Linked DNA regions of Homo sapiens: all the other regions are linked to region 1. Evidence: fine-mapped expression QTL. A gene starts in region 1. Each other region holds a variant in brackets. All regions are shown on one strand. Distances are between the middles of the regions.

Region 1 (5,761 bases):
ACACTGAGGACTCATCGCGGGGAGTAGCGGGAAGTGGTGGGGAGTAGCGTGATGCAAGCTGCCCCGCCAACGAGGGCTCGAGCTGCCTTCCACTCGGCTCAAGTGTCCACTGATTGATGGGTGGCTCATCTGACTTGACTTTCAGAGCCCAGAAACTCACCTACAGCCTTAGGGTCTCAGGTGCCTGTGCAGGGCTTCAATCAAAGTGGAAGACTGAGCAAAGTCCTGTAGCCAGCCAGGCAGATTTCCCTCCTCTTAAAAGAATTCTAGAAAGAAAGGGCTTCCTGGCTAATGTGAGTGCTTCCCATCAGCCAGTGTGGCAGGTATGAAGTTGGATTAAATAGCTTGTTCTGGGAGATGTTGCTCCATGGGTCAGGCTGCTCTGGCTCCCATTCAAGGGTGGGACCTTATCACAGGCACTTCGTCCCTGCCTGGGCCTCAGTTTCCCCCTTGGGACAGTGAGATCATCACAGGGTGGAGCCATGGCCCAAGTACCGATGGCTTCGTTGGCCTTCGGAGCTGCTCCAGCTTTCCCTTGAACACTCTGGGCCCACGTTCCCCCTTGGTGGCAGTGACGGTCACCAGGCTCTCAGGAGTGGCCCCTGTAGACGCTCTCATCCCTGGCCTAGGGAGCTGGGGCAAGTGCAGAGGTGGGGAAGGGGAGGGTTCTGGGGCTCACAGCAGGAATCAGGATCCCAGCTCTGCTGACTCTCATGGGGTGAGAGTGGTTGACCTTGGAACCAGGGTCTTAACCCCTTTGAACCTCAGTTTTCTCTTCTGTAAATGGATATCACAGCCTACCCCCGCAGATTTGCTGATGGAATTGGAAATGACACCTCTACAATGCCTGGCACCCAGCAGGTCTCCAAAAGAGCAGCCTTAATTATGATGTAGCACGAGGATCCTTATCTGGGTAAGGACATCTGGGGGGTGGACCCGGGGCAGCTGTGCTCCCCTAGGCCACACAGGAAGGCTCCCCAGGGCTCAGGCACAGACTGCGTCAAGGGGCTGCAGGCAGGTCCAAGCACACTGCAGGGCGGCCCCACCTGTGTCCCATGGGGACTGCACCCCCACTCCTATAGGAATGAGTCACTTCTGGAGAAGCTTGTCCAAGCTGCCCCCAGGACCCTCGGGCCAGGGACAGTTTTAAAGCAGCCTACAAGATGAGCAGGGGCTTTGGGGCCCTAGGTCCCACTGAGGACCCCACACCATGGACTCCAGGGTGCGCTGGGCTGTGTTGAGGGTTCTGCACCCGCCTGTCCACAGCGGATATTCTTGCGGTCCCTTTGGAAAATGCATGCCGCCCGCTCAGCTGGGTTTGGGGTGTTGGTTTTTCCAGCTCTCTGGGTTTGCTTCCAGGAGGGCTTTCTGGTGTGATGTTGTCTACGTTTAACAGCTTTACTGAGGCATAATTGACACCCCATGATCGCTTCCGGTCCCTAACAGAACGGAAGGCAGGGCACCACCCCGCCTCCCCCCCCACCCCGTCCCCGGCAGGGCTTGACGTGGACACTGGGAGCCCACGCCTGGCAGCCAGACTCGCTCCCAGAGCCCTCGCTGGCCTGAACCAACACACTAGGGCCCACCGCGGCCGGCCCTGCAGCTGTGAGATCCTGGCAGGTCCCAGCCCCACTCCTGCGCTTCCGACGGGCTGCAGCCTCCGAGTACTGCCAGAGCCCAAGCAGTGTGAGTGGGCACCTGGCGGGACCCCCCGCCCCACGAATGCCGCGCGTGCTTGCCAGGCTGGGCGGCGGCGAGTGAGGAGCCCGCACCACCCGGCCCACACACGAGCCAACGTGGAGCGAGCCCTCCGCAGCCAGGTTGGGCCCGGGCCGCTGGACTCTCCAACCAACCCACGAAAGACAGAATATTTGGTGGGCACTCACGATTCTTAAGAATTGGCTCAATGTTTTATAACTCTTTCATTGGAGTATAATAAACATGGATGGGGGAAAATGCACCTCGTCTGATATTCTTTTCAAACAAGGAGGAAGCCATAAAGCCGCTCCGCAGGCCTCTGCAGACAGCCCAACATCTCTTCAATGCGGGGCTGCGGGGCACTGTCCCAAAGCCAGCCGCAGGGGTGAGGGGGTCGAGCAGGAAAGGAAAGCCTCGCTTTCCCTCTCGGTCCTGGTGGTGGGCGGCCCCCGCCGCCCTGGTCCCTGGAAGTGCAGCCCAGTAGGCTAGCGTCTAACTTCAGCGCCCCAGCGTGCAAGGTCAAGGCCTTTCCTCCCGCGCGGGCTGCGGGGACGTGGGCGGCTGGGACTTGGGGAGGAGGGGGTACGGACCCAGGCTCCAGAAGCGCCAGCCGCCGCGCCCCCTCACCGCGGCCCCCGCCAGGAGAGCCTCCCACGCCTCGGCTCCGCACTGCCGGTTGGTCCCCCACTCCCCTGAGGGCGGAATCACTTCCCAGTCGCTGGCTGCCCGCCTGCTAGCGGCCTCGCCACCGCAGCAGACCCAGGTCCCGCGCCCAGCACCCGCGGCGAACCCCGGCACTCCGGAGGCGGGGCCGAGGATCGGCGCGGGCGGCGACGGCAAGAGACGCCACGGGGGCGGGCCAGGGGCGGACCGGGGCGGGGCGGCGGCGGCGGACTGCGGAGACGCGGCGGCGCGCGGGGCGGCGCAGAGCGTTCTCGGCGCGGAGTGGAGCGGAGCGGGCTGGTGCTGGGGGCGCGGAGAGCGCTGTGCTGGCCGGGGCCGGGAGCGGGGCCGAGCGGGAGCGGAGTCGGGCGTCGGGCCCGGGGAGCCGGGGCCGGGCGGGGAGCAGCCATGGCACCGCGGAGGGTCGGGGCCCGCGCCGCTGCGGGCGGCCTGGGCGCCGAGTAGCCGGGCCGGGCCGGAGCGCGGGCGGCGGCGGAGGCAGCTGCGCCCGCGCCTCCTGCCCTCCCAGGCCCCGCGCCCCGCGCCCGGGCCCCGGCGATGGTGACACATGCGGCGGCGGCGCGCCGGCGGCAGGACCATGGTTGAGCGCGCCAGCAAGTTCGTGCTGGTGGTGGCGGGCTCGGTGTGCTTCATGCTCATCTTGTACCAGTACGCGGGCCCAGGACTGAGCCTGGGCGCGCCCGGCGGCCGCGCGCCGCCCGACGACCTGGACCTGTTCCCCACACCCGACCCCCACTACGAGAAGAAGTACTACTTCCCGGTCCGCGAGCTGGAGCGCTCGCTGCGCTTCGACATGAAGGGCGACGACGTGATCGTCTTCCTGCACATCCAGAAGACGGGCGGCACCACCTTCGGCCGCCACCTCGTGCAGAACGTACGCCTCGAGGTGCCGTGCGACTGCCGGCCCGGCCAGAAGAAGTGCACCTGCTACCGGCCCAACCGCCGCGAGACTTGGCTCTTCTCCCGCTTCTCCACCGGCTGGAGCTGCGGGCTGCACGCCGACTGGACCGAGCTCACCAACTGCGTGCCCGGCGTGCTGGACCGCCGCGACTCCGCCGCGCTGCGCACGCCCAGGTGAGCGCCCGGGCGGCGGGATCCTCGCGCAGCTGCGCCCCCGAGGCCGGGCCGTATGCCCGCCGTGCTGTACTGGGTCGGCCCTGCCTTCCCTACCCCCTTCTGCCCTCTTGGGGGCCCCCACTCGCCGGCACCCCTCCCGACCTGCCGAGCGCCCGAGGCTCCCAGCTCCTCTGGGTGAGCCGGCTGTCACCGCGCTTTCTGACCTCGCTCTCACTCTCTTCCTTGCCTTGTGCTGCCCTACTGCCGGCTTGACTGCGCAGCGCCCGGGTTTTCTCCAGGGTCCCCGCCCGCTGCCCTCGGGCCACCTTACCTGCTGTGCGCCGTGAGGTCTGGCCCGCCGGACTTGGGGACGCGGGCTTCTGGGTGTGTGCGTGGCCTACCTGGAGTGTTGGCTTCCCCGTGCCGCTTCGGTGCTGTGGTCCCAAAAGTGGAAGTGAGAGTAGTGAGGTGCCGCCCCTGTGCCTGGAGTGCCTGCCTTCAGAGGGTGGGGGAGCTGCCAGGGAAGGGGGCTGGCTCTGCCCGCCTGCCTGCCGGTGTGTGCAGGTAGAACAAAGGCCCTGTTGACCTGGGGCTGGGGGCGGGGAGGAGGCAGTACCGCCTGTCCTCCCAGTGGGGCCTGCCAGCCGAATTCTTCCAGGCACAGGCTTGCCTGGAGAGAGGAACAAAAGCCACCCGATGGGGGACCACCTTCCCCAGGAAGCTACCAGCCAGGTTGGGGGTAGTTGAGCTGGTCCAGGGAACCTGTGCTGCCACACCCCTTCTCTGGGGTCCCCCAGCCCCATGTCAGAGCTGAGCTGCGTGAGGACACAGAGCATGGGAGGGGTGCCGGGGCAGCTCTTCTGGGAAGCCGTTTGTAGGGGAACCTGGGGTGCTGCTGGGTTTCCAGCAGTTAAAGTTGGGGTTATTTTCCTCCTGTTCCTGTTGGTGCCCATTCGTCCTGCAGGGATGCCCTGCGGGGCCTTTCTCCCCAAAGTCTGGGCTGGGAAGGGCCAGGAGCAGGGCTTCTTGTCTGCCTTTTGTTTCTCTTCCAAATTTGCCTTAGGACTGAATTTGCAGACAGGCTGGTGGTAGGAGGCTGGGCGGTTGTAGGCGTGTTGGCTGGCACTCTTGGGTCCAGAGGCTGTAGGCTCTCAGGTGTGCCTGGGGAGCCTGGAAGGTCCAGCCAGCCTGGAGCTGAGCAGAGTCCGAGACACTGCTCCCCTGCACAGACCTCAATCCTTGCTCTGTGGTCTTTCTCAGGCTGTCAGGAAATTGGGGTCCTAGAGTTGGAGGGGCATCTTCCCACTTTTCTTTCTCCCCCCTCCCCCAACTGTACACACACACACCCACACACACACACACACTGCAGCTCCCAGCCTGGGAGGTGATGTTCTGAGCCTCTTACAGCCACATTCTACACTTGGCGGTCACAGAGCTGCCTGTCTAGGGCCCCTGAAGGATTGCTTCCGGCCCAGCACTTAGTCTGCTCTGCACAGATGCACGTTCCTGCTGCAGGGCCCCCCTAACCCTGGTCCAGCTTCTCTGTGCTAGGCTCAGCTGTGCCTGGGACCACAGCCATGCCCCCACCCACCCTTCCACCAGTCAGAGCAGTAGGCTCCCAGAGTTGGTCACTGACCAATACCAACAGACGCCTCCCTACCTGTGGGGGGTGCAAGGATGGGGGTCACCCCCTTTGCCAGAGGGACTTAGCTCGGCAGCCTAAGAGGATTGCGTGGAAGCTTCGGGCCGCCAAGAAGCCGGAGCTTTTGAAACAAGCCTGCTCAGCAGAGGCCACCTCAGCCCTAGATTGCAACCAGGATGCTCTTCCTGCAGCCCCGCACGCCTGTGGGTCCCCAGGGTGAAGAGCCTTGGCCTCCTTTCTCTGGAGTTTGTCCATGAGAGTGGGAGGACCAGGTGGGGCCGATGGGGCCCCAGGTGCTACACCAGGAAGGCCCGGCTCCCCCTGCCCAGGGAGCATGTGTGGAGCAAGAATGGAAAACGCAGATGCCTCTGGCGGAGGTGGGCTGCCAGCCTGGAAATTGCTAGCTCAGCAGCATGCGCCAGGGTTGGGAGGGGCTTCCAGGGCCGTCAGGAGGCCCCCTCTGCCACCCACTCTGGAAGTGGGTTGTGCTACCGGGCAGGTGACAGCACCCCACCCTCCGAGTCCCTCTTCTCCGCCTCCACTCCCTTCAGTTCTGTTGCAGGCACTAGGTAGATTGCTTTTTTAATGAGCTTCATCAGGAGGCCAAGGTAATCTTGCCTTTGTGCTCGCAGGGCCAAGCTGCACTGAGGTCCACCTGCTGAGCGCTGCCCCGCCACCTGA
Region 2 (5,761 bases), 170 kb before region 1:
AGGCCCCACCCTCATGACCTCATCTAAACCCAGTTACCTCCCAAAGGCCACACCTCCTAATGCAGTTATATTGGGGGCTGGGGCTTCAGCCTAAGCATCTGGGGGGAACAGGCATTCGGTCCAAACAAGTGGGCTCAGTACTGCACTGTTCCTCACCCAGGCCCAGCCTAGGGGCCCTGCTATTCTTTTGCTCCAGGCCCCAGGTTCTCAAAACCGCAGATTCCACAGGCTGAAAGCCCTCCTGAGGCATCTTGAGTGGGCCTCTTCTGGCACCTGAAACAGCCTTAGGAAAAGCAGCATCCTTCTTGCTTCCCTAGCTAGAAGATAAATTCGCCCTCCCACTGACAGCCCCATTTTCTGAGGGCCGAGTGCTCTGGGTCCCTGCAGGATGGTGGGATTACCGAGAGCAAAGAGAGCCAGCCTCACCTTGGGGAACACGCAGACCCAGAGCACCCACTGTCCACAGACAGGCAGAGGGTCCCAGCTAGACTGCCCCAGCCGCAGGGCTCCTGGCAGTAGAATGCTGCTAGCAGGGCCAGTCAGGCTTCCCAGAGCTTAACCTGAGGTTTAGCATCAAAATGCCTGCACTTACAAATGTAAATAACGCTCCAAATACCTTAGACCAACATCAGTGCTGGGTTTGGCTTGCAAATAATTCATGTTTGGTCTAAATGGGTTTATTCTGCCTCGTTTGAGTGATTAGTTGCCTTAGAAAGCATCAAGGAATAGAGGCTCTACTAAGCCAGCAAGAAGGGGATAATGCAGGAATTGAAATGCAGAGAGGACTTCTCAGGGCCAGGCTGTTAGCAATTGCTATTAGATTAAGGGATCATTTGGCGGAATTTAAAATGGAAGTAGGCACAACTCAGGAGAAAGAATGAGAGAGAATATTTCTCCCGCATCTCGCTGGAGGGTGGAGGAGACAGGCTGGTGCTCTCCAGTGTCTGGGCTGCAGCACAGAGTTCTGCTTTTCAGAGGGGAGGGCTGACCAAGGAGTGTCTGCTGTCCAATGCTTCTCAAATGCCACCAAGTCCCCTTGCCGCCCACACTGGCTCCCACAGCTTAGTTCTATTACGCAGTGGAAATGCAGGCCCATGCTGAGGAGGTAAACCAAAAGCAAAGTGTTAGGAAGAAGAGGTCACCAACTGCGGGCAGCTGGGGACAGGGTAGTGCTGCCAGCCCCACGGGCACCATTTGCATGGCCACTGCTGACAACACTGCACATGGGACAGTCCCTTGGAGGCTTCTGACCACAGGCCAGAGAGCGACTAATAAGTGGAGAGTGGGGACTGCCTACACCCAGGCCAAAATACCCCTTGCTAGAGTCCGGCTTCCAGACCACCAACTTCACTGCAGAACTTGATTCTCCTATCAAGCAGGGTCTCTTGGCCCAGCCAACAAGAACAATGATGAAGACATATTGACTGCTGCCTGCACAAACCCCTGGGCTAAGGGCATTACATGATCCGTCCTATTGAATCCTTACAACAGTCTGGAAGCTGGGGCTGGCATTATCCCATTCTCCAGATGAGAAATCCTAAGTGGAGGGAGAGTACGACCTGCCCAGAGTCGCACCCTGAAGACCTGCAGGTGGAGGATGTAGAGAAAGGAGGAATTGCGATTCCCTGATCTGGGGGTTGGACTGTGGGTGGAAGGTAGTGCCTTTCCCCTGAGGCTGGTGAGTGCCAGTGTCTGTTGGACAAGTCAGTGAACATGTCCTAGAGACAACTGGATGTAAGTCTGCAGCCCAGTGGAGAGGTTAAGGCAGAATTAGAAATGTTGGTGAAGGTGTCAGTGGTGTTGATGGTGTGCGGGATAGCCGTGATGGATCCACAGCTGCTCTCTATTCCCAAATGATGCTTTTCTATTCCAGCCAGGGCCAGGTGTGCAGGAAAGGGAGGTAGGGAAGTTTCCCTTCAAGCCCCTTCCCAGGGCCCTGCCCCTCTGTTCCAATGTGTCTGGGATTGTCAGGCAGTAGGCCGTGCCTAAGACTATGTGACAAGGACTGGATGCTTACTGAGGTCATATCCTGTGAGCCTCTCCTCCCATGAATAAATGCTTCACCCCAAGAACTCCCGCCTGCCTCTGCAGAACCCTCCTCTCTTGTTCCAGAGCTGCTCCCCCTTCCCTTCCTCCTTCTCCTTTGCCTGTGTCAAGCACGTCCGTGTGAAGAGACCACCAACAGGATTTGTGTGAGCAATAAAGCTGTTTATTCACTTGGGTGCAAGTGGGCTGAGTCCGAAAAGAGAGTCAGCAAAGGGAAATGGGGAAGGGAGTTGGGTAGGTAATGGAAAATTACAGTAAAATGTGGTTATTGTTAGCAGAGGAGGGGGTTACAACGTACATGGTGGAGAGATCATAAGATTCATTGTCCAGAAGAAGAATGTCACAAAGTCGATTGGCCAGCTAAGGTAGGGCAGCGACAAGTCACAATAGTAAAATGTTGTAATGTTGGTTAATCAGTTAAGCCAGGAACTGGCTGTTTTCCTTCTTTGTGGTTTTTTGACTGCTCCCCATTTCTTGGCTCCTGCAGGCCACCTGGATGTGTATGTATGTGCAGGTCACAGAGGTTATAATGGCTGAGCTT[T/C]GGCTCAGAGCCTGACAGCCTGGTCTCCTTTAGTTTGAGGAGAGGAAAATCAGGTCCTACAAGCTTGCACATCTTTGGAGGCCCGCCTTTCTGTCTCCATTTCTGTCTCTTTCCTCTGTCAGTATGAAACAGTGGAGGGAAACAACTTGTGGGGTCCTGCCAGGAGAAAGGGAGGAAGGGCCGGGTAAGGTCCCCTGGGGAGGAATAGAGACAAGGAAGGGAAAGGGCGGGGTCAGAACCAGCGCTCCCACATCCAGATGAGAGGAGAAGGGGGCCGAGAGGGGCAGCCTGGGGCCGAGGGTGGGGCTGGGACTGATAAGAACCTCAGGGTGAGGGCATGCCCAAAAACTGAGAACAGGGCAGAGCAGGGCTTTCAAAACTGCTGAGAAGTAAAGAGGGGCACAGATAAGTGGGATTTACAACTTGGAGGTCATGAGTGACTATGATAAGCTATGATGGGAGGAGGGGCAGTTCCAGTGGGATAAGGAATGAAAGGATGTCCAGAAGAGGCAACCTGTTGGGGAAGTCATGGAAAATGAGGCTGCAAAGAAGTGGAACTGCCTCCCAGGGGTGTGCCTGGGTCATTATCCTGGGACAAGGAACCAGCTAAGGTGGAATGTAGGTTTGCTGATGTTCAGCCATTCCACAGTTGGCTGAGTCCATCCTGATTATCCATCTCTCATCAAAGAATATTTGCAAATCACAAATTTTAATCAGGTCTGACTTTCTAGTTTGTTTTGTGTGTGTGTGGAAATACTTTTATTGTTTTTTCTGATTGCAAAAATAACATATGCTAGGTTTTTTTAGAAAATGAGTAAAATAGAGCATGTATTTCTCCACTTCCATTTTTTCTCAGGCTAACCACTGCTTCTAGATCTTTACAGACATTTTTCTTTACATCTTTACTTTTTTAACAAACATAGACAGAGATAAACATTGTTCTGTATGCTGCTTTGATATCTAACAATCATTGACGTCTTTCCATATCAGTGCAGACTGATCAATTTCATTGTTTTAATAGGGTCAAAGGAGTCTACTGTTTTCATGGGTATTATTTATCTTATCTTCTCCCAGCCATCTACATTTAGAGTACTTCCATTCGGTTGTTGTTGTTGTTGTTTCTCTGGGAATTGATGAAATAAACATCCTTATACATACTTAATGCATCTGTGCAGGTACAACACATTCTTAGAACCTGCATTATTGAGTCAATGGTAAGCACATTTGAAATGTTCATAAAAATTTCCATATTTTCCCTCAAAAACAAGTACAGCAACACCACTGGCATTGTATATGGGTTCCCTTTGAATCTTTACTGAACTGATAGATGAAAAATTCTTTCCTGTGGGGGATGTTGCAGTGGGGGAGGCTGTGGTGTGTGGGCTCAAGGTATGTATGGAATTTCTCAGTACCTTCGGCTCGATTTTGCTATAAGAACCTAAAACTGCTCCAAAAAATAAAGTCTGTTAAAAATGATTTGTCAGTGTTATTTAAATTTTTCATTCCTTCAATTAATTTTAAGGTAGGACAACTTTTGATACATTTCTTAGCCAGGTGTGCTAACTCTCCTGTAAATTTCCTTTCATGTCTTTTGCTTATTTTCCTATTAGATTTCTTATCTTATTGGGTTATCTGAACTTTTCATGTATTATGAAGAGTAAGAAGTTGTTCTTAAACAGAAGAAAAAGCACTGACTCTTAAAGCCCCCAGGCTGCTGGGAGAGGAATGAGTTGAAGGAGGAGGTGGGCAGTGGGAGCCAGTGAAGAAGCTGTTCCCTGTCGGCCCCTATCCCATGCCCCACATGGCGTGGACACAGGTCAGCACTGGCTCTCTTCCTTCTTCCAGCACCCACCCCTGCAGTTTTGACTCTGACCTCCCCTGTCTTCACCTTACATTATCTGCTTTTAATACTCATTCGTTTGATCTCCTGTTTCTGCTCTGAGGTTTTTAAAATGGATTTTGGGGTCATCTGTGTTGGATGACAGGAGGCAGGTAAGGAGTCCCTTGGAAAAGGTGGACAATTAGATTTAATTAAATTAAATCCAGTGCTACCAGTGCTAGACAGAACAGTGTGGGAAAGGGGAGAGGAGGAGAGAAGAGACCCATGGGGTTGGGGAGGGAAGAGTAATCAGGGAAGTCTTCCTGGAGGAGGTACTACTAAATAGAAATTTCAATGCTGAATAAATTCATGTGGCAGAGCTTCTAGTGGTTCCCCAGTATCTGTCTTCCCTTTCTCTCCACTGTCAGCTGGATTTCCAGCCATCTAGACTACAGAAATCATTTCCCAGACTCTATTGCAGCAGATTTGGCCATGTGACTAATCATGGCCAGTGGGGTGTTAAGCAGAAGTAATGATGCCCCATTTCCGCGTTGTCTTTAAAGGGCAGGGCTGTGCCTCGCCTTGTCCTTTTCTCCCTTCTCTCTGGCTGAATGCAGGCATTGTGAGGAGCCATACTGGAACCCCCAGGTCCTTGATGACAGACAGAAGCTGAGAGGAGCCACTCCACCAGCTGTTTTGTTTATGCTCACATTTATGGAGGGCTTGCTCTGCACTAGACACCTTGCTAAGCACCTCCCAGCTATCATCTCATTTAATCTTCTCAACAACCTGGAGGTGGGTACCATTCCTATCTCTGTATTGAGAATGAGGAAACTGAGTCACAGAGAGGTTAAGTAACTCATCCAAAGCCACACAGCTTGTGAGAGATGAATCTGGAATGTGCACCAGTAACCCTGGAATCAGGACCACTCCAGACCCTGAGCTCTTAGCCAATATATTTTGAAGCCTCTCTGTGCCTTCCTGCATCCCTCGCAGATGGACAAAGTTCCCGTCCTCCTGGGGCTGACAGACCAACAAGTGAGCAAGTAAAATAGGTAGTAAGTTACACAATGAGATGTACTACAGAGATTAAAGCAGGAAACAGGAATGGGCTGAACAGAATGATCAGAAGAGGACATCTGAGCAGAGGCTGAGGCAGCCGTGAGAGTGTCTGGGGACATGCTGGCCTGCTTTCCAACCCCAGCCCAGACACACATCGGCCCCTATTCTTGAGTTCTTGACAGCGTCTGAGCCTCAGCTTCCTCATCTGTATAGCCTGCCATGGTAGGTTGGGAAGGCGATTGGAGAGAACATAAGTAGGCCCCGTGGCAGAGTAGGCATGGTGGTGTTGGTGC
Region 3 (5,761 bases), 53 kb after region 1:
GGCGGGCGGCGTGGAGGTGGATGAAGACACCATCCGGCGCATCGAGGAGCTCAACGACCTGGACATGCAGCTGTACGACTACGCCAAGGACCTCTTCCAGCAGCGCTACCAGTACAAGCGGCAGCTGGAGCGCAGGGAGCAGCGCCTGAGGAGCCGCGAGGAGCGTCTGCTGCACCGGGCCAAGGAGGCACTGCCGCGGGAGGATGCCGACGAGCCGGGCCGCGTGCCCACCGAGGACTACATGAGCCACATCATTGAGAAGTGGTAGTGGCGGTGGTGGCCACGGGGAGGCCTCTTGGGGGGTGTGGGGGATAAAACAGGACAGACGACAGGTCCACCCAAGACTGTCAAGGGATGAGCATCCCAAACCTGCTCCACAGAGGTAGCTGCGTCCTGAAAAAAAACAGAGCAGGGATGTAGTGGGGCTGGGCAGGGATGGGGGCTTGAGAAATCAACAGGTGCAGCCCAGTGGGTCAGAGGAAAGCGTGCTCGAAGGATGCCATGGTCAGGGCAGGGCCTCCAGAGCAGGTGTTGTGCCTGGAGCTGCTCTCCTGGCCTCCTTGGATTTATCGCAAAAACTGAAGGTTTGCGCAAGAGACGAGGACAGCGGAAAGTGGACCTGCCAGGCCGGGAGTGTGTCCCTCACCAACTATGCACACAGCACTCGCTCTTAGCTCCTCTGTCCGGGCTACTAGGAGTGAGACCAGCTTCTGGCAACTGCCCCAGCTCCAGGCCATCCCATAGCCCCTCCTCTTCTGGCTGCCCCCAATGCCCCGAGGCCTGGGGAGCCCCCAGCTCACCCATCTGTAGCTCCCTCAAAGTCAGGGCCCACCCCATCTGAGGCAGAGAAGACTCGAGTCCAGCCCCCAGGAAGCCTGCTCCCCTCTCTGGCCCATGGTCCTGCTTCATGCTTTGGGTCAGGAGGCCAAAGCTGATGTTCAGGCCCCACCCACTCCCTACAGTCCTCAGACCAAGGAGGGGTTTGGGTAGTAGGCCCGAGCTGCATTGCCGGCCTTCCTCGGGCCAACTGGCAGCCCAGGAGTGGGGAGGCTTTGGCCAGGGATGCTGCCACTTGTGCGTGAGTCCGCGGCTGGCCCTTGGAGGTGACCATCCAGGCAGGCCTGGCTCAGACTGGAAGGGCTGGGGACCGAGGGCTCCCCTGCCTCTGTTCTCCTTTCTGACCCACTGGGATTTGCTAGCAGGCTGCCCCAGCCCCATCACCGAAACACATACTCAAGAGCTCAAATACCACTGCTCCCACCAGCGTACGGATTAAGTTCATCAGGCTTCCATCGGCTGGAGCATGGGACCATAGCCCCTGCCCAGGAGCCGTACCCTCGGACCACAGTGGCTCTGTATGGCCAGGAACTGGGACTCGAGCTTTCAGATTCTCAACTAGCCTTGGCAAAACAGCTGTAGGTGGCCTCCCTGACAACAGACACTCAGCCCTCCCCACCCTGGCTCTCCTTGCATTTCCCCATGCTCCCCACCCCCTGGCAAAAGGCTGGCCATGCTCTGTTCCCAGCAGCCGCGCAGGTTTCCCCACTGGCTGCAATGGCCCTACCAAAAGCCATGTTGCATATCCGTTGTAAGCACGTGCCCTGTGCCCTGTCCCCATTCCTTATGCCCTAGGAGGCCAAGCTGGTGTCTCTAGGAGGGCCCACACAGGCACCCTGGATCCCCCAGAGAGTAGATTGGTGTGCTCAGGCCGCAGGCTGACTCAGAGGTAGGGCAGTGGGCTCTGCAGGCCACCTGGCTGGGGTTGGTGGGGGTCCTCTCTCCTGCCCCAGCTTCCACTCAGCCACCACAGTTGCCACACCATGGGGTGGAGACGTGGGTCACCACGGGCTTGGGAGCAAGCGCCTTCTGCAGCACAGGAAGCCGAAGCTGGGGTCAGGTGAGGTCGCTACCCCTGGAGGTCTGGCATAAGGGCCCCACCCTCAGGTCTCCTACACTGGCCCCATTTTACTTTGGGGTCCAAGGACAGGATGGTCAACAGGGCAGGGTGGACAGCGTGCCAGCGCCGCGCAGGGCCACCTCCCTGGGTGGATGCATCACACTAAGGAAGTGAGTGCCAAGGGGATTTAGTGGTGTGGTTCTTTCAAAGGGAGGTCAGGGTCAATGGGAATCTGCTCGGACACTCAACATGGGGGTGGGTGCACTCCTTGGAGGAGGAGGAACACGTTCAGGGGATTGTGAGGTCTTGCACAAGCCACGTGGGGCACCTTGGCTTCCCGGCAGGAGGTGGACACCCAGCCAGAGGCCTGGCTCAAGGTGACCTCACCTTCACCATGGGCTTCCTGGGTGCGCGGGCCTGAGCGCAGGTTGTTTTGTACATATTGGAATATGTGTTAACTTATGCCCCGCATCCCAACTCACACGGAAGCACGGGTCTTGTCTCAGTCTCTTCGCTGCATTTGGAAAGCAGTCTCCTCTCGGGCCAGCGCCGGGCTGAGGTGTCCAGAGGCGGCGGCAGCTGGCAGTGCCCTCAGCCCCCAAGTGTCCAGCCTGGCACTTCCCATTCAGGCCACCTGCTTTGGGTCAACAGTTCCTTTGCCAGCAGCATCTCCTAAATTGTAAGGACTCTGTCCACCGGGGCCCTCCCAGGGCTGTGAGGACGGAAACAGGCAGGGAGTGGAGCTAACAGCTTAGTCACCAGGACCCCCAGACCTGCAAACGTCCCCTCCTGGAAGGGGAAGCCAGGAACAGCAGAACTGCCCACAAAACAAGGCTGTGAACTTTTCGGGAACTGGAACTGTTTAACTTGAACCCAGGATTGTTTAAAGCTTTATTTATTTATAGCTTCTTCTTAAAAAAAAGTGTTGAAGAAATTTTTTGGTTATTCATACAAAAAAATGAGTTGATGATGGAAAAGCAAGTCATAATCATCTAATTGTTTTTGTCTAGGTCGAGAATGAATGTTAGCTGATGAAATAAACCCTGACAAGGAGTGGCGGGTGTGCTGTGGTCTCTGCGGGCATAGCTGCCCCTCCCAGTGGGGTCTCACACCACGTCCCAAGGGCGGGGTGCTTTGCACA[G/A]GTGCAGGAGGCTCAGTGAGGAAAGTCCCATTAAGTAAGGCATTCTGAAAGAAAAAATGGGACTTTGTCATCACCATAAAGAGTAACCGTTTATTAATCATTAGTGATAGTATTTGGGAAGATGACACCAGTTGAGAGGGAGGCAGGTGCCACTGAGTTACATTCTCATTAACCTCTTCCCTCCCTGTCTTTGGAAATTTTGAAAGATTTCAAATGACAAAGAGAGTGGAGGAATAGTTCATGGACACCCACATGCTCTTGGCCTAAATTTTTCACCTTCTCTTATCCTGTGCCCACACTTTCTCATACACGCACACACGCGCGCTTTTCTGAAACATCTGAAAGTAGGTTGTGATCATCAGAATACTGCACTCCTAAATCCATCAGCTCGTGTCTCCTAAGGACGTTCTGCCACAAAACTCAACCCTGTTATCCCAGCCCCCCCCCCAGATTTTATAACAATACAGTATTTTCCAATATCCAGATCTTCTGGTTGTCCTAGAGATGTCTTCAGAGCATTTTGTAGCCCCAGGACCACACGGTGCCCCATGTGCCTCTCCTGTCTCCTTGAATGGAGGAGAGGGTCCCAGCTACCCCTTCTTTTTTCCGTCTTTCTTAGGATTGACATATTTGACTAGTAGAGACCAGTTGTCTTAAAAGGTCTGCTGATGTTGGCCGGGCGTGGTGGCTCACACCTGTAATCCCAGCACTTGGGGAGGCTGAGGCGGGCGGATCACGAGGTCAGGAGATCGAGACCATCCTGGCTAACGCGGTGAAACCCCGTCTCTACTAAAAATACAAAAAATTAGCCGGGCTTGGTGGCGGGCACCTGTAGCCTCAGCTACTCAGGAGGCTGAGGCAGGAGAATGGCATGAACCCGGGAGGCAGAGCTTGCAGTGAGCTGAGATTGCGCCACTGCACTCCAGCCTGGGCAACAGAGCAAGATTCCTAAAAAAAAAAAAAAGAAAAAAAAGAAAAAAAACTACAGATGTCAGTTTCCTAGTGGTCAGATTCGGTGAAATTGGGTAGGAAGGCCCTCGGGTGAGGCACCTTCCATCAGCCCAGGTGTCCTGTGGCTCTGTTCCCCAGATGAGGGAAGTCCAGCCTCCCCACTCAGCCCCTGGGGAAACCCAGCCATAGTGGTCACCTGCCAGCTCATACCTGCCACCATCCCAGTGACAAAGGTCACCAGGGTGTTTCTGGGAGGGTCACGGCTTCTACCTGCCACCATCCCAGTGACAAAGGTCATCAAGGTGTTTCTGGGAGGGTCACGGCACAAGTAGGGCAGGAGTCAGAACGTAGCTGCCTTCTTAAAACCCCAGTCTCAGACTCCACGTCAACACCTGCTCATGCCTAGGTAGAGTGCGGAAGGGAGGAGCAGAGGCCAGACGCCAAGAGGAACTCCCGAGTCCTTCCTGGACACTTCATGCGGAGGTTTATTTGGGGTGTGGACCAGCCCTCAGCCTGGCTTCTCCCTCGGGGGAGCCAAGATGGAAGCTTCCTCCACCTTCTGATAGTACCACTGGACTCTGTAGGGCCAGTGTCATGATCAAAGGTGAAATCAGACCTGAAAATACCTCACCCAGAATGGGGGTTTTCCTCTTCCTGCTTCTCTTTAGAGTTGAAGGCCACCTTTTTTTGTTTTTAAAGACAGAGTCTTGTTCTGTTACCTGGCCGAAGGCCACTTTATTAAAGTCCACCTGAGGCCAGGTGCGGTGGCTCACGCCTGTAATCCCAGCACTTTGGGAGGCCGAGGCAGGCAGATCACTTGAGGTCAGGAGTTCGAGACCAGCCTGGCCAACATGGTAAAACCCTGTCTCTAACCAAAAATATATAGTCGGGCGTGGTGGCATGCGCCTGTAATCCTAGCTACTGGAGAGGCTGAGGCAGGAGAATCGCTTGAACCCAGGTGGCAGAGGTTGCAGTGAGCGGAGATCATGCCATTGTACTCCAGCCTGGGCAACAGAGCAAGTCTCTGTCTCAATAAATAAATAAATGAATGAAGTCCACCTGAGCCAAAGACTCAGGAGGCTCAGGCCTGCCCCCTGCCCAGCTCTCATCCCCACTTCCTGCCCACTGCCACAGAGTCCCCACTGTGAGCGTCAGGCTCACCCGATCCTCCGAGGTCCCCTGCCCCCTTCTATCCTGCCAGGGAAACCCACATCTGCCCTTGCTCCCGGGCCTGTGGGTTTGGACAAAGGCAGCTCCTCTACCACCCAGCCTCGTGGCCAGCGCCATATGCCTCATCCCTCCTGCCCCGGCGTTCTGTCTTCACACCAGTTGCTCCAGCCATGGCCAGCCACGGCCCTGTCCCTGGATGGGCCTGTTAGGCCTGCTCCCCACTGCTCCCCTTGGGCTTCATGCCAAAGCCATCAGGCCAGTATCAGTCCTCACACCCTGTTCAGCTGGGGGCACCTTTGCACACAGCGCTGGGTTCTCTTCCTTGGGGAAGCTGGGCCCCAACTAACCCTACCTAGACGTGGTCTAGGTGCCTGGCTTGGGGCCCCTGGTCCCCTTCATTGTGGCACAGAGAGGAACCCATCCTCAGGCCACCCTCGCAAAGGTGGGAGCCCTAAGTCCTCTCCCGGGAGTGTACACCTGGACTCGGGGAGCTTCCAGCCTAGGAGGACTCGGAGGGCACACAGTGTATTCATGACATGAGGACACCTTCCTAGGAGGGCCTCACCTCAGGGCTCCAAGGACACCCCTGGCGGGGAGAGCCT
Region 4 (5,761 bases), 250 kb before region 1:
GTCCTCTGGGTGATTTTGATTTCTTCTCTTTTTTTGATTTTGAGATGGAGTTTTGCTCTTTTTGCCAAGGCTGGAGTGCAATGGCACAATATCGGCTCACTGCAAACTTCTCCTCCCGGGTTCAAGTGATTCTCCTGCCTCAGACTTCCGAGTAGCTGGGATTACAGGTGCACACCATCGTGTCTGGCTAATTTTGTATTTTTAGTAGGGGCAGGGTTTCACCATGTTGGCCAGACTGGTCTCGAACTCCTGATCTCAGGTGATCTGCCTGCCTCGTCCTCCCAAAGTGCAGGAATTACAGGTGTGAGCCACAGCACTGGCCTCTTCTTTAAATTTTTCTGTATTTTCTAAATTTTCTGTTAGAATCTATAACTTTTATAATCAGTAGATAAATAGATCCACCTCCCAATTTTCCAAGAACAAATGCACTTCACGTCTCTGGGCTTTTGATACAAAGCAGAGCTTATTGTTGAAGCCAAGTATAGTGGAAAATCAACAAATGAGCAATGTTGGTATTTGACAGCAAATTTTCTTAAAGAAAACAACTAGAAATTCAGGAGGTGCAAACTGTTGAGATGAAAGGATTTTAGTGCAGCTTCTCTGTCTCTACTCGGTTCTATCTTATGCCTATTCTGTGGCAAAACAAAGGCAGGGACTACTTCCTAGACATCTGGGTGCTTCTTGCACGCAGTTCATTTTACCTTTGAATGTTAGAACTGGGCCACACATTAGAGATTATCTAGTGACACCCATCATTTTACCATCAGGGAAACTGAGGCCGAGAATGATGAACAGGCTTGCCGGAGGTCAGACTGCGGACAAGAAGTTCAGTCTGACTCTTGCCACACTGCTGCTCTGAGTGCTGCTCAGCATGCTGTGGACAATGGGGGTGAAATCACACTCATGCCCAAATATGAGAAATAAGATAAATGTCAACCAGGCAATGAATTCACATTATCTTAAAAAGAAGTAAACGTAAATTGCATTGTAGAGCAAAGCTAACATAGCTCTCTTCATTAGGCCCAGATTCCTATTTCTGTCCTCAAAGTCTAGTTGCCTGCTTGAGTAGGAGTCTCCTCCTTTATTGAATTCACTTGGTCCCGGATGATGCATTTGGATTTCAGCAGGCACAGGTAAACTACACAGCTGCCCTTCCACCAAGCATTCACTCACTCCATGCAGTACTTCCAGAAAGTGACCTGCATGAAAGCAGAGGGTCTTTCTAAGCGACAGTCAGGGAAAGAGGACCCTTCACCACTTCTGCTCATTCCACGCAGGATTCCCGGGCAGCTGCTCTTCACATTTCCACAGGTGCCTCGGAGAGTTTTAAAGAAATAAAATAATACAGCGACAGTTGAGGTTTGCCCTGTACCCCTCCCTTGTCCCACTCCTTTCCCAGCAAGCAAAGTCCTCTCCTGAAGTTAGCATGCATTCCTCCCGTCCTGAGAAGAATATTTTAATCTGGCCGTGCATCTAAAGAGTGCAGCGTGATGCTTTATTATTACTATTTACACCAAGTCACATTGAATTTATAACACGGAAACATGCTTTCTTCACTCACCATTGTTGCTCTAAGCGGTCTTGGAGTGGAGTCATGTAAATTTAGTTCGTCTATTTTCATTGCTGTTAGAATGTGTGCATAGGAATACACCATAATTTATTTATCCAATTCCCCCCGGTGGGCATGGCGATCTTTCACTACTGTAAACAGTGCTCCTGAAACCTGTTCCTATCTTCCCCTCTCATGGAGGTGCTGCCCTGGGGAGGGTGCCTGGTGCTAAACTCTCCAGTATTACTTATTCAGCCTCATCAGGGCTTACCTTCCTGTCCCCCAAGGCTGGCTGAGCTCCTCTCCTCCCAGCAGCACAGCCTATGCTACCCCAGCCCACGTCCCTCTTGTCACTGCTGCACCCTGTCCAGGGGTGTCCCGTGGCCATATGAATGGGCACTCCCCAGCCCCAGCTGGGGTGGGCGAGCATATTTTTCCATGCCTATTAGCCACTAGGGATTTTTCTTCTGTGAAATGTGTGATCATGTCCTGTGACCATTTTTCTGGAGGATCATTTGTCTTTCTTCTTCCTTGATACTGTCCTTAGGTGACAGGCTCATACCTGAGCCTAGGACCGAGGGTTTTTTAATCTTTTTTAAATCTTTCTTTAACAGGCCCCACTGTGAGATCCACACAGCTCATCACACCAAAGCAATGTCCTGAGTGGGCTGGATGGGAACGCTGTCCCCTCAGGACAGAGGCAGAGGGCAGTGCGATCAAGCGCTTGTGTCTTGCATTTGGAGCTCTGTGGCTGGCTCTGCTGTCCCTAGCTCTTCAGATAAAGGAGGGATGGTGAGCAGCCCAGGCCATCTGAGGAGCCCTGAGGCGCTGGGATAGACGGGATGAGCAGAAGACTTGACCTAGCCTTGCTAACTGCAGCCATTGTGAATAGCTTGTGTCACATCTGATCCGTATTAAGTGAATACAACCTGGCTCAGCTTATTATGAAGTAGAGATATCCTCAACATAAATTTCAGAAAGTAATGATGAAAAAAAGAAAGAGTTGAAGTGAGTTGGAGTCATCATAGTGAGGCTGGGTGCAGTTCTGTGTAGCTCCTTACAGACCCACAGTGGGAAACAGACCCGCAGAGAGGGCAGAGGGGACCCTCCAAAACACCTGGAGTGGAGGGGGGTGGACATTTAAGACAGGATGCCTGCAGAGGAGCCATGGGAGAGGAGGGCTCTGATTTGAACTAAAGTCTTCCAGTGGAAGAGAACCCTAGTGGAAGCAACTTCCCAATGAAATAGCAGGGCAGAGGCATTCTTAGATCCAGAGTGTCCGCTGACCACAGCCCAGCACCCCCACCTTCCTCTGCACAAGCCCCATATCCAGCTACAGGAAACCATGATATGCCTAGCCCTCAAAGTGAAACTCTGAGGGGAAGAAAAAATAACATCCAATAAAATGCAAAGCGAGGCCAGGAGGCATTTCCCACACCATGTTGAAACCAATGGGACGTCTTTTTTTTTTTTTTT[G/TG]TGAGGAGTCTCACTCTGTTGCCCAAGCTGGAATTCAGTGGCATGATCTCAGTTCCCCGCAACCTCCACCTCCCGGGTTCAAGTGATTTTCCTGCCTCAGCCTCCCAAGTAGTTGGAATTACAGGCATCTGCCACAACGCCCAGCTAATTTTTATATTTTTTAGTAGAGATGAGGTTTCACCCTGTTAGTCAGGCTGGTCTCGAATACCTGACCTCAGGTGATCCACGCGTCTCAGCCTCCCAAAGTGCTGGGATTACAGGTGTGAGCCACTGCGCCCAGCCAACCAATGGGAAGACCTGACGGAGCTACATACATTAAAATGAAAAGAGATGGCATAGCAGCTATGGAGGGGTCCTCAAAAAGTTCATGGTCAATGTCTATTATCAAAAAAACTATGCAGGGATTTCAAATTCTTTTGTGCCAAAATAAACTTGTACTAACTTGTTATAACATGTCTGAACAGAATCTAGTTTGGGGAAACAGGAAAGATAAGACAACAATTTGAAGAGTCCCTATCAGAGCAATATGAATTCTGCTAAAATAGAAGCAAGAACAAAGAGCAAATTTCCGGTGAAACTTGGGTGGAAGAACAGTGACATCATGGATACTTTATGAAAAGCTTATGAGGACAATGCTCCAAAGGAATCAGCAGTTCACAAATCAATAACTCTTTCTAAGAAGGGATGAGTTCATGTTGAAGATGAAGCCCACAGCACCAAACCATCTACATCGACTTGCCAGGAAAAAATTAATCTTGTTTGTGCCCTAATTGAAGAGGGCTGGTGATTAACAGCACAAATAGCCAACACCATAGACCTCTCAATCAGTTCACAATGTAATTGAAAACTGAAGGTTGAGCAAACTTTCCATTTAATGGATGCCAAAACTGTTGCACCAAGATCAGCTGCAGACAAGAGCAGGGTTGCCGATGGAAATCTTAAACAAGTGGGATCGAGATCCTGAAGCGTTTCTTCTAAGAATTGCAATAGATGAAATATGGCTCTGCCAGTATGGTCCTGAAGACAAAAGACAATCAAACCAGTGGCTACCAAGAGGTGGAAAGGGTCCAGTCAAAGCTAAGGTGGACTTGTCAAGAGCAAAGAACTTGGAAACAGTTCTTTAGGATGCTCGAGGCATTTTGCTTGTTGACTTGCAGAAAGCCAAATAACAATAACATCTTATTATGAGAGTGTTTTGATAAAGTTAGCCAAAGCTTTAGCAGAAAAACACCTGGGAAAGCTTCATCAGAGAGTCCTCCTCCACAACAATGCTCTTGTTCATTCTTCTCATCCAACAAGGACAATTCTGTGAGTATTTCAATGGGAAATCACTAGGCAGCCACCTTACAGTACTGATTTGACGTCGTCTGTCTTCTTTTTGCTTCCTAACCTTAAAATTTATTTAAAGGCACCTATTTTTCTTCACTTAACAATGTAAAAAAGTCTGTACTGATATGGTTAAATTCCTAGGATCCTCAGTTCTTTACAGATTAACTAAATGGCTGGTATCACCACTTACAAAAGTGCCTTGAACTTGATGAAACTTACGTTGAGAAATAAATTTTATATATTTTACTTTTATCTTTTAGTTCTATTTTTCTCCCAACTTTTTGAAGTCACCTCATATAAGATCACAAAAATAAATAGATAAAATGTTAAAACATTCTAGGAAAGAAAAAAAAGATGAATAATCAAATCTTGCATGGAGAGGGGAGGAATAAAAAATGGTAGAAAATTCCAAGAGTGCTTCATGTTAAAGAAAATCTTACACAGAACAGAAAGGCAATGAAAGAACTCAAAAATAGAGATTCTGCTAATGTATTTGGAGGAAGTGTACTGATGTCTGCAACTTTGAAATGCAAGGGATTGAGGAATGGAAAGAAAGATTTAGAAAGAAAGAGAGATAGTAAAGCAAATGTAATAAAATCTTGGTTGTAGAATTTAGGTGTTAAGAAGATGGGAGTTCACTGTAAAATTCTGTCATCTTTCCTGTATGTGAAAAGTTTTTATAGTAAGATGCTGAGGCAAGAAGATAATATCTGTTCTTTAAAATTGTCGTAAGGATTACAGGAGATAAATGTGGAAGGGCTCTGCTACACTATGGTGGATTTACAGATTTTAAAGATGATTAAAATGGTAGAATGGCATAACAAGGGGAGATTAAGGAGCTAAGGAAACAAAGAGCTTTTACAGAACTAATAAGTAAATTAGAAACAGAAAAGAAAAGACATGACTGATTACCAAGTTTCTGGCATAGAGGAAATACTGAATATAATCAAAATTAATGCAGAATGAAAAGATAACATGATTAAAGTAATTAAACAGATATCAATGGACATGAAAAGCAAACAAAAAGTATCCAACTTATGGATAAATGGTATCCCTAAATGAGGGAACCTACCAAATGGAAATTAAAATATCCAATGAAAATGAGAAAAAAATTCCTGAAGAAAAAGGAAGAATGTATAACTAAAGTTTGAATGGACACAACATATTTCAGAAGATAATGATACAGGAAAATCAACATCAAATCATTTGCTAGGATAAAGAAGAAATTCTTTAGGTATCCAGCCCCCCCACTCTGCCCCCACAAAAAAAAAAAGTTCCTTACCTAGAAAGAAACCAGGCTGCCTTTAGATTTCTCCTAATACCACCAGATTCCAGAAAACCTCAGAAATAGGTATTTGAAATTCATAGGAGTAAGCTATGACCATAAACTTCCTAGTAAGCCACGTT
Region 5 (5,761 bases), 31 kb after region 1:
GAACTCCTGACCTCAAGTCATCCACCTGCCTCAGCCTCCCAAAGTGCTGGGATTACAAGTGTGAGCTACCACGCCTGGCCAAATTAAGGGACTTCTATTCCTAGTTTCCTGAGAGTTTTTATTATGAATAGTGTTTTTAGCAGATGCTTCTTACACATTTACTGAGCTCTGTAGTCTGTTGCTGTGATGAGTCACATGTATGGATTTTCTCCTGTTAAGCCATCCTTGCATACCTGGGGTTACTAAGTATGGTCGTAGTGTAATATCTTTTATATGCTCAATTGGGTTGGATTTGATAAGATTTTTGTTGAGGAATTTTTGTATCTATATTTGAACTCTGAGCTTAGCAGATGTGTCCACCAGGCTGCAATTTTCCTCTCTTGTGCATTTGTCCAACTTCGGTATTAGGATTATGTTGGCCTCATAGAATGAATTGGGAGTGTCCACTGCTTTACTCTTGTCTAGGAGGGTTTGCTTACAAAAATCTGGTTCTTTTAAAATTTGGTAGAAATAGCCCAGCACTTTCTTTGTAGGAATTTTACCCCTAACTTTTTATCTTGAAAAATGTCAAACTTACAAAGTCGTTGAAATGGTAGTAAAGTGAACCTCATACCTTTCACCGAGACCCACTGCTTGTTAACATTTTGCAATATTTGTGCTTGTGAGTGGGTGCTCTCACTTGCTGTTTACATATATGTATATCTGTAGATACATGTGTACTTACATGTATATTTATATATGTAGTTATATACATGCTTTTGCATTTTAGTAGAATCATTTGAATGTAAGCTGCAGGCATTTCCTCAATATTTTAGGAAGATTTTAAACTACTGCTTTGATTTTTGCTTTTTGAGATTATCGGGCTATTTGTGACTTATATTTGGACATTTTATACAAATAATTTGACTGACAGCTATCCTCTCTCTATCTCTTACATGTTCTCCTGGTGCCTCTGGCCTGTGGTTGGTGAAAGCAGGTAGGTCTGTTCCGGCAGCTTCCTCTCTTTCCCTGCCAGCTGGGGTGGGCCCATCCTCATGCCGAGCGTCATGCTGTGACCTCCAGGAGGCATATTGTCTTGTTTTGTGCAAGGAGGAAACAGATGACAGATGCATTCCTTGGGGAACTCGTCAGGGCCACACAGCTGCTGGATGGCAGATCCCTTAGCAAGCTGGAGACCTGTTTTCTGGTGCTGCCAATGGCGCGCCGGGTTCTCCTGGGAGCTTCGTGCTGCTCATCTCAGGGACCGTGCACGTGGGTGAGCAGCAGACATGCCTTGTGGCCTATGAAGTCAGACACCTCTGGTATCTGGGAGACTTTGGCTGCAGAAGGATCTCTGAGTCTCCATTTGCCCATCTGCAGGGGGATCTAATAGTGGCGACCGTACCGGGGTTGCAGGAATAAAATGAGCAAATGCCTGCTGGGCCCTAACCTTTTTTGGAGGCACCAACCACAGAAGTGCTTGATGGGGGGCCATAAAATGGCTGGTTCTGGAGAGTCAGCATTCCCGAGTCCCCAGGGTCACTGCTCAGGTGACAGCTTTCTCAGTGCATCACCCGGAGCTGTCGCCCTCCTTGTAAGTAGAGCCAGGGCCATGGGAGTATAGAGTTGGATACTGCAGTTAGCTTGGGCACAGAATGGCTTATCTCTGGGGTGGGCTGTTTAGGCTCTGAATTTCCCTGTCTGGGGAAGAATAGTCTACATTCAAGAGCATGCAAGGCCATCTCTCCGCGGCCGCCTCTGTGTTTATATGGACTCGGGGGTTGAGGGAGCAGGTGTCAGCCCCTCTTCGCTGCAGAGAGGCTCTGTGGGGTCGTGGGTGAGAACCAGGACTTTGCCTCGGACCCTGACATGAGTTGCTGTGGGGTCAGCAGGAGGTGGAGCCTGGAGGGGTCCCAGGGACACCCCCAGTGATCCTCAGATGAGCTCTCGCCCTCCTGACCCCGAGAAAGGCTGATTACTGGTGATGATCCTGTGGCTTTGGAGATGTCCTGAGAGGCTGCTGGGGAGGCCCTGAGCCTCCCAGGCCTCCCTGACTCTCCTACCTCCTGTGAGAAAGTCAGATTAGATTGTTTTGTTTGTTTGTTTGTTTTCTAATACATGCATGGTTATATAAAATCGGAAAAATACAGAAAAAGTAAAAGAAAAAATGGCCCAGGGCACTAGGCCCAGGGCACCTGGCGCGGGTTGCATTTCTGCTCCATCTCTCCAGTTGATGTGTTTTCCAGAGTTGGCATCAGGCTGTACCCACAAGCTTTGATGTGGCTCTTTTGCCCATTGTGCACACAGATATGAGCTTCTGTGTTAATGCAGAGTCCCCAGAAGGGCTGTGCTTTTCTACTGCCATGGAGTCACCGGGCGTAGGTATCAAGTCGTGCTGGCTGGCCTCAGGGCCCTGAGCACTTTCTCACCTGGCAGGGACAGTTTCATAGCAGGGTACAAATACTGCACACCCCGGCAGGACCTGACGCTGCC[G/A]CCAGCCTCCCTCTCGGGCCTCCACGTCTCTCTTGGTGGGCCCAAGCAGCCATGGTGGATGTGTAGTTACAGGCTGTAAGGAAGAGGAAGGGCCACGTGAGTCCTCGCAATAGCCTCAGCAAAAGGCCTAGAAGCAGAAGGAGTGAGCCCCAGAGCTCTTGGCCAGGACAAGAGGAGGCCATGGCTCTGGAGACAGGTCTCAGGCCGAGCCAGCCCGCCCCTAGTCAGCTGCCCTGCTGCTCGACTGCGTGCCCTGTGAAGAAGCAGGGCACTGTCACCTTCTCCTGACCCCAAGGTATGAGTGTGTGCGTTCAGGCATAAGTGACATCTCGCCTGCCGGTGTCAGAAGCCAGAAAGTGCCAGGCAGGCAGGTGTGAAATATGAATGGGCAGCCTTCATGACCGGCGAGCAGCCCCGCAGGGCCCTCATGGCCTTGCTGGAGCCCTGCCTTGGAGCAGCAGGCAGGAGAGTCTGAAGGGCAGTGGGACACAGGTGAGGAGGTGGTCCTCACCCCTTCTGCTCATGGAAGACCTCGGCAGAGCCCCATTCCAGGTGTCCAGTCAGCAGCATCTGGGCCCGGGCTGCTCACAGCCATGCTGGGCTTTTGGACAGGGTCAAGCTCCCAGAAAGCCATCCGCCTGTTCTCCCCTCATTGAAGAGGGCTGGTGCAGAGCACCCCTGGACCCGGCGTCTCTAGCTGGCCCTGCTGGGAGGACATTGTCAGCACCTCCTCTTGTGGCCCCTACCCTGGGGGTGACTTCTAGGACCTCCAGAAGTCACAGCCTTACCTGACACCTGCTAGGTGGAGGCAGTCCTAAGCCTCACATCCCGGCTCTCTGCCCAGTTCTCTGTGCACCCCCACTTCAGTGCTGTTGGAGAAGCAGCCCGTCAGGGGACCTGCTGGGGGTCTCGTTCACCCTCACTGAGTAGGGGGGGCAGCTGTCCCTGCCCACAGCTGGGCAGTGCATCTCAGGGGAAGGGGCCTCACCTGCACCTTCTCTGGGGGAGTGCCCTGGGCCCTGGATATATCCACTGAGGTGCTCTTGCAGGGGGACTGCCCTGGTCAGGAATGGGAGTGACCATTCCTGGGACCAGGAGGGGTTGGGCGCTTCCTTCCCATCAGTGCCTTTGTGGAGGTGTGGCGGGTGTGGCCTGCATGGCACCCCACAGTGTGTGTCCACCTGATGGCTAAGCCACCCCCTGCCCCAGAGGGTTCCTTGTCAGGGCGCAATGAGATCATGCAGGTCAGGGGGCTTTGAAGGAAAAGCTTTGGGCTTCCCCCAGTGTGGGGCCTCTGCTTCCTGGTCACTTGCTCCCCGACCACCCCAAGGGGAAGGTGGGAGTCTCAGGCTCCTAGGAGGCATTCAGAGGGGCCTCCTGCTTTGGGGGATGCTGTTCCCCAGGCAACCAGGTGGGGCCTTGGTTTCTCTATCTGGGTGGGCACAGCTTTGCAGGAGGCAAGGCGTATCGTGGCCAGCAGCCTGCTCTGTTTTCTGAAACCTTTGCTGACCTTGTTTGTAAAGCCAGCAAAGATTTTCACCCGCTTGCAGACGTTGTTAGGGAAGGGGCTGAGGAGGTATTTCCTAAACCTACGCTAATAAAGCCTCTTGTTTTTTATTTTTTAACAAGTCAGTATTTTGACACAAGGTCAGAAGTTTTCCTTTTTCCCACCATTTAATAGCAGTGTCCTGTCCTTGAAACCATGAACTCATTTCCTCTTCTGACCAACCCGTGCATTTGGATGGCCTGCAAAGCCTGGGCGTGCAGTGCAAGCTCCCAGGGGCCCTGCCCGGCCTCCTGCCTGTCCTCTGCTGCTCTGCAGGTTTGTCTGGAATTCATTCCCCAGCCCCCTTGCCAGGCCTGCTCCTCCTCGTCCTCCAAGCTCCTGACCTGCAGTCTGATGAGGCCCCCTGACCCACCCCTCCCTGGCGCTTGCTTGCCTGGGTCTTTAGTGTCTATGTTCCTGGCCCTGCAGGATGCTGTGAGAGCAGGACCCTGGCTCCAGCCCGCAGACCTCGGCCACGATAGATTCCCCCTGGGAGGGAGGAATAGGAATGGCAGATTGGATGGGACAGGGACTGTGACAAGGTGAGATCACACAGCTCACATCTGCTGCACCTGCTGGGGTCCCCCACGCCAGTCCTGGGCTGGATGAGCCCTCACCCCTGCAGGGTGCTGTAGGCTCTAAGTCTCCCTACATACGCCACACACCAGATCGCCAGTCTGGGAAGTGGCTTTCTGTCTACGAGTTTTATGGAGACAGTCCCTGGGGCTCAGAGGGGCCAGGGTGACTGTCCCCAGGCCACACAGGACAGCTGGCAGAGCAGGAATCCCACCTGTTCATCCATCTGACACTGGGACCTGTGTCCCCTCTGGCTGTCTCATCCAATTCCTCAGCCCCCTTGCCGGACAGAGCTATTTTGGGGCAGACGGCACCTGTCCCACTGCCGGCCTGAGGGTGGGGTGGAGGCCCTCAGCTCCCAGTACCACCCATCAGTGGAGAAAGGCCCTGGCCCATGGGGATGGTTGTCCGAGCCAGCTGGGAGCAGTAACTGGCAGGCAGGGACACCCACCATGGGAAGGGAGACAGTGTATGGACCCCCAGGCAGGAGTCAGCCTGGCAGGGTGGAGGCAGAGACAGGGGTGCCACAGACGGGCCTTTCCTCGAGCCTCACTGGCCCAGGTGCTGGCAGACAGCCCTGCCCATCCCCCAAGGCTTCCCCTGGTCCTAGAACCTTCCCTGCACAGTGCAGCTGAGTCCTCAGGGTAGCAGAGCTGGGCCGTAGCGGCAGGCATCCAGGTGAGCAGCTTGGCTGTGAGGTGGGACAAGGCCTTGGGAGACTGGGTACACAGGCGCCCAGTGCAGGGCAAGGCAGGGCCTCACGTTGTTGGGCCCCAGTGGGGTCTGTGGACCCTGCCACCACGGCAGGCTAGAGAGGGAGCCACCTGCCCTTCCCACGTAGGGAGTGGGGTGCGCCCAGAACCTGGGGGCTGCCTTATTCTCCCCTCCTCCATACCACATCCAAGGGCACAGGACAGAGGAGTCAGACCTCCACCAGACCCCTGGCTGGGAGGCTACAAAGAAGAAGGGTAGAACCCAGAGAGCGTGGAACACTCATTTCCCTTACTGGAAAACAGGCTAGATGGGGACTGCTGCCCCAGGGCTTGGCTGGTGGTCGGCGACCTAGAGCACGCAGTAGGCACTCCATCAGCGTGTGTTCTCTGGCATGCCGCCTGTTTCCTGGAGGCCAGAGGTCGGGTCGCAGCACAGGGTGCTCTGGTGAGGCCC

Evidence for each region. PIP is the estimated chance that this variant, and not a neighbour inherited with it, causes the effect.
Region 2: its variant is fine-mapped to the expression of HS6ST1 in nasal epithelium (TOPMed, PIP above 0.99). The same link has a PIP of 0.9 or more in unexposed skin.
Region 3: its variant is fine-mapped to the expression of HS6ST1 in whole blood (TOPMed, PIP above 0.99). The same link has a PIP of 0.9 or more in blood mononuclear cells.
Region 4: its variant is fine-mapped to the expression of HS6ST1 in whole blood (INTERVAL, PIP 0.98).
Region 5: its variant is fine-mapped to the expression of HS6ST1 in whole blood (TOPMed, PIP above 0.99).

Annotation. Positions count from the first base shown.
Region 1 is chr2:128,315,732-128,321,492 of GRCh38, reverse strand. HS6ST1 (heparan sulfate 6-O-sulfotransferase 1) reads left to right here and starts at 2,625. Exons shown (of 2, transcript NM_004807.3): 1 at 2,625-3,456. The coding sequence starts at 2,930. RefSeq lists silencers at 2,283-2,692, 3,387-3,616 and an enhancer at 4,618-4,767.
Region 2 is chr2:128,486,828-128,492,588 of GRCh38, reverse strand. All of the region lies in intron 1 of LOC105373611 (a long non-coding RNA gene), which reads right to left. Among named protein-coding and RNA genes, the nearest start is that of HS6ST1, 170 kb to the right of the region's middle. RefSeq lists enhancers at 1-214, 29-830. The variant T/C (reference allele first, on the strand shown) is at 2,588.
Region 3 is chr2:128,262,669-128,268,429 of GRCh38, reverse strand. HS6ST1 (heparan sulfate 6-O-sulfotransferase 1) reads left to right here. Exons shown (of 2, transcript NM_004807.3): 2 at 1-2,950. The coding sequence ends at 268. Among named protein-coding and RNA genes, the nearest start is that of HS6ST1, 53 kb to the left of the region's middle. RefSeq lists an enhancer at 5,356-5,761. The variant G/A (reference allele first, on the strand shown) is at 3,039.
Region 4 is chr2:128,569,854-128,575,614 of GRCh38, reverse strand. All of the region lies in intron 1 of LOC105373611 (a long non-coding RNA gene), which reads right to left. Among named protein-coding and RNA genes, the nearest start is that of HS6ST1, 250 kb to the right of the region's middle. The variant G/TG (reference allele first, on the strand shown) is at 3,026.
Region 5 is chr2:128,285,009-128,290,769 of GRCh38, reverse strand. The region is part of intron 1 of HS6ST1 (heparan sulfate 6-O-sulfotransferase 1); the gene reads left to right. Among named protein-coding and RNA genes, the nearest start is that of HS6ST1, 31 kb to the left of the region's middle. RefSeq lists enhancers at 2,108-2,937, 5,432-5,761. The variant G/A (reference allele first, on the strand shown) is at 2,473.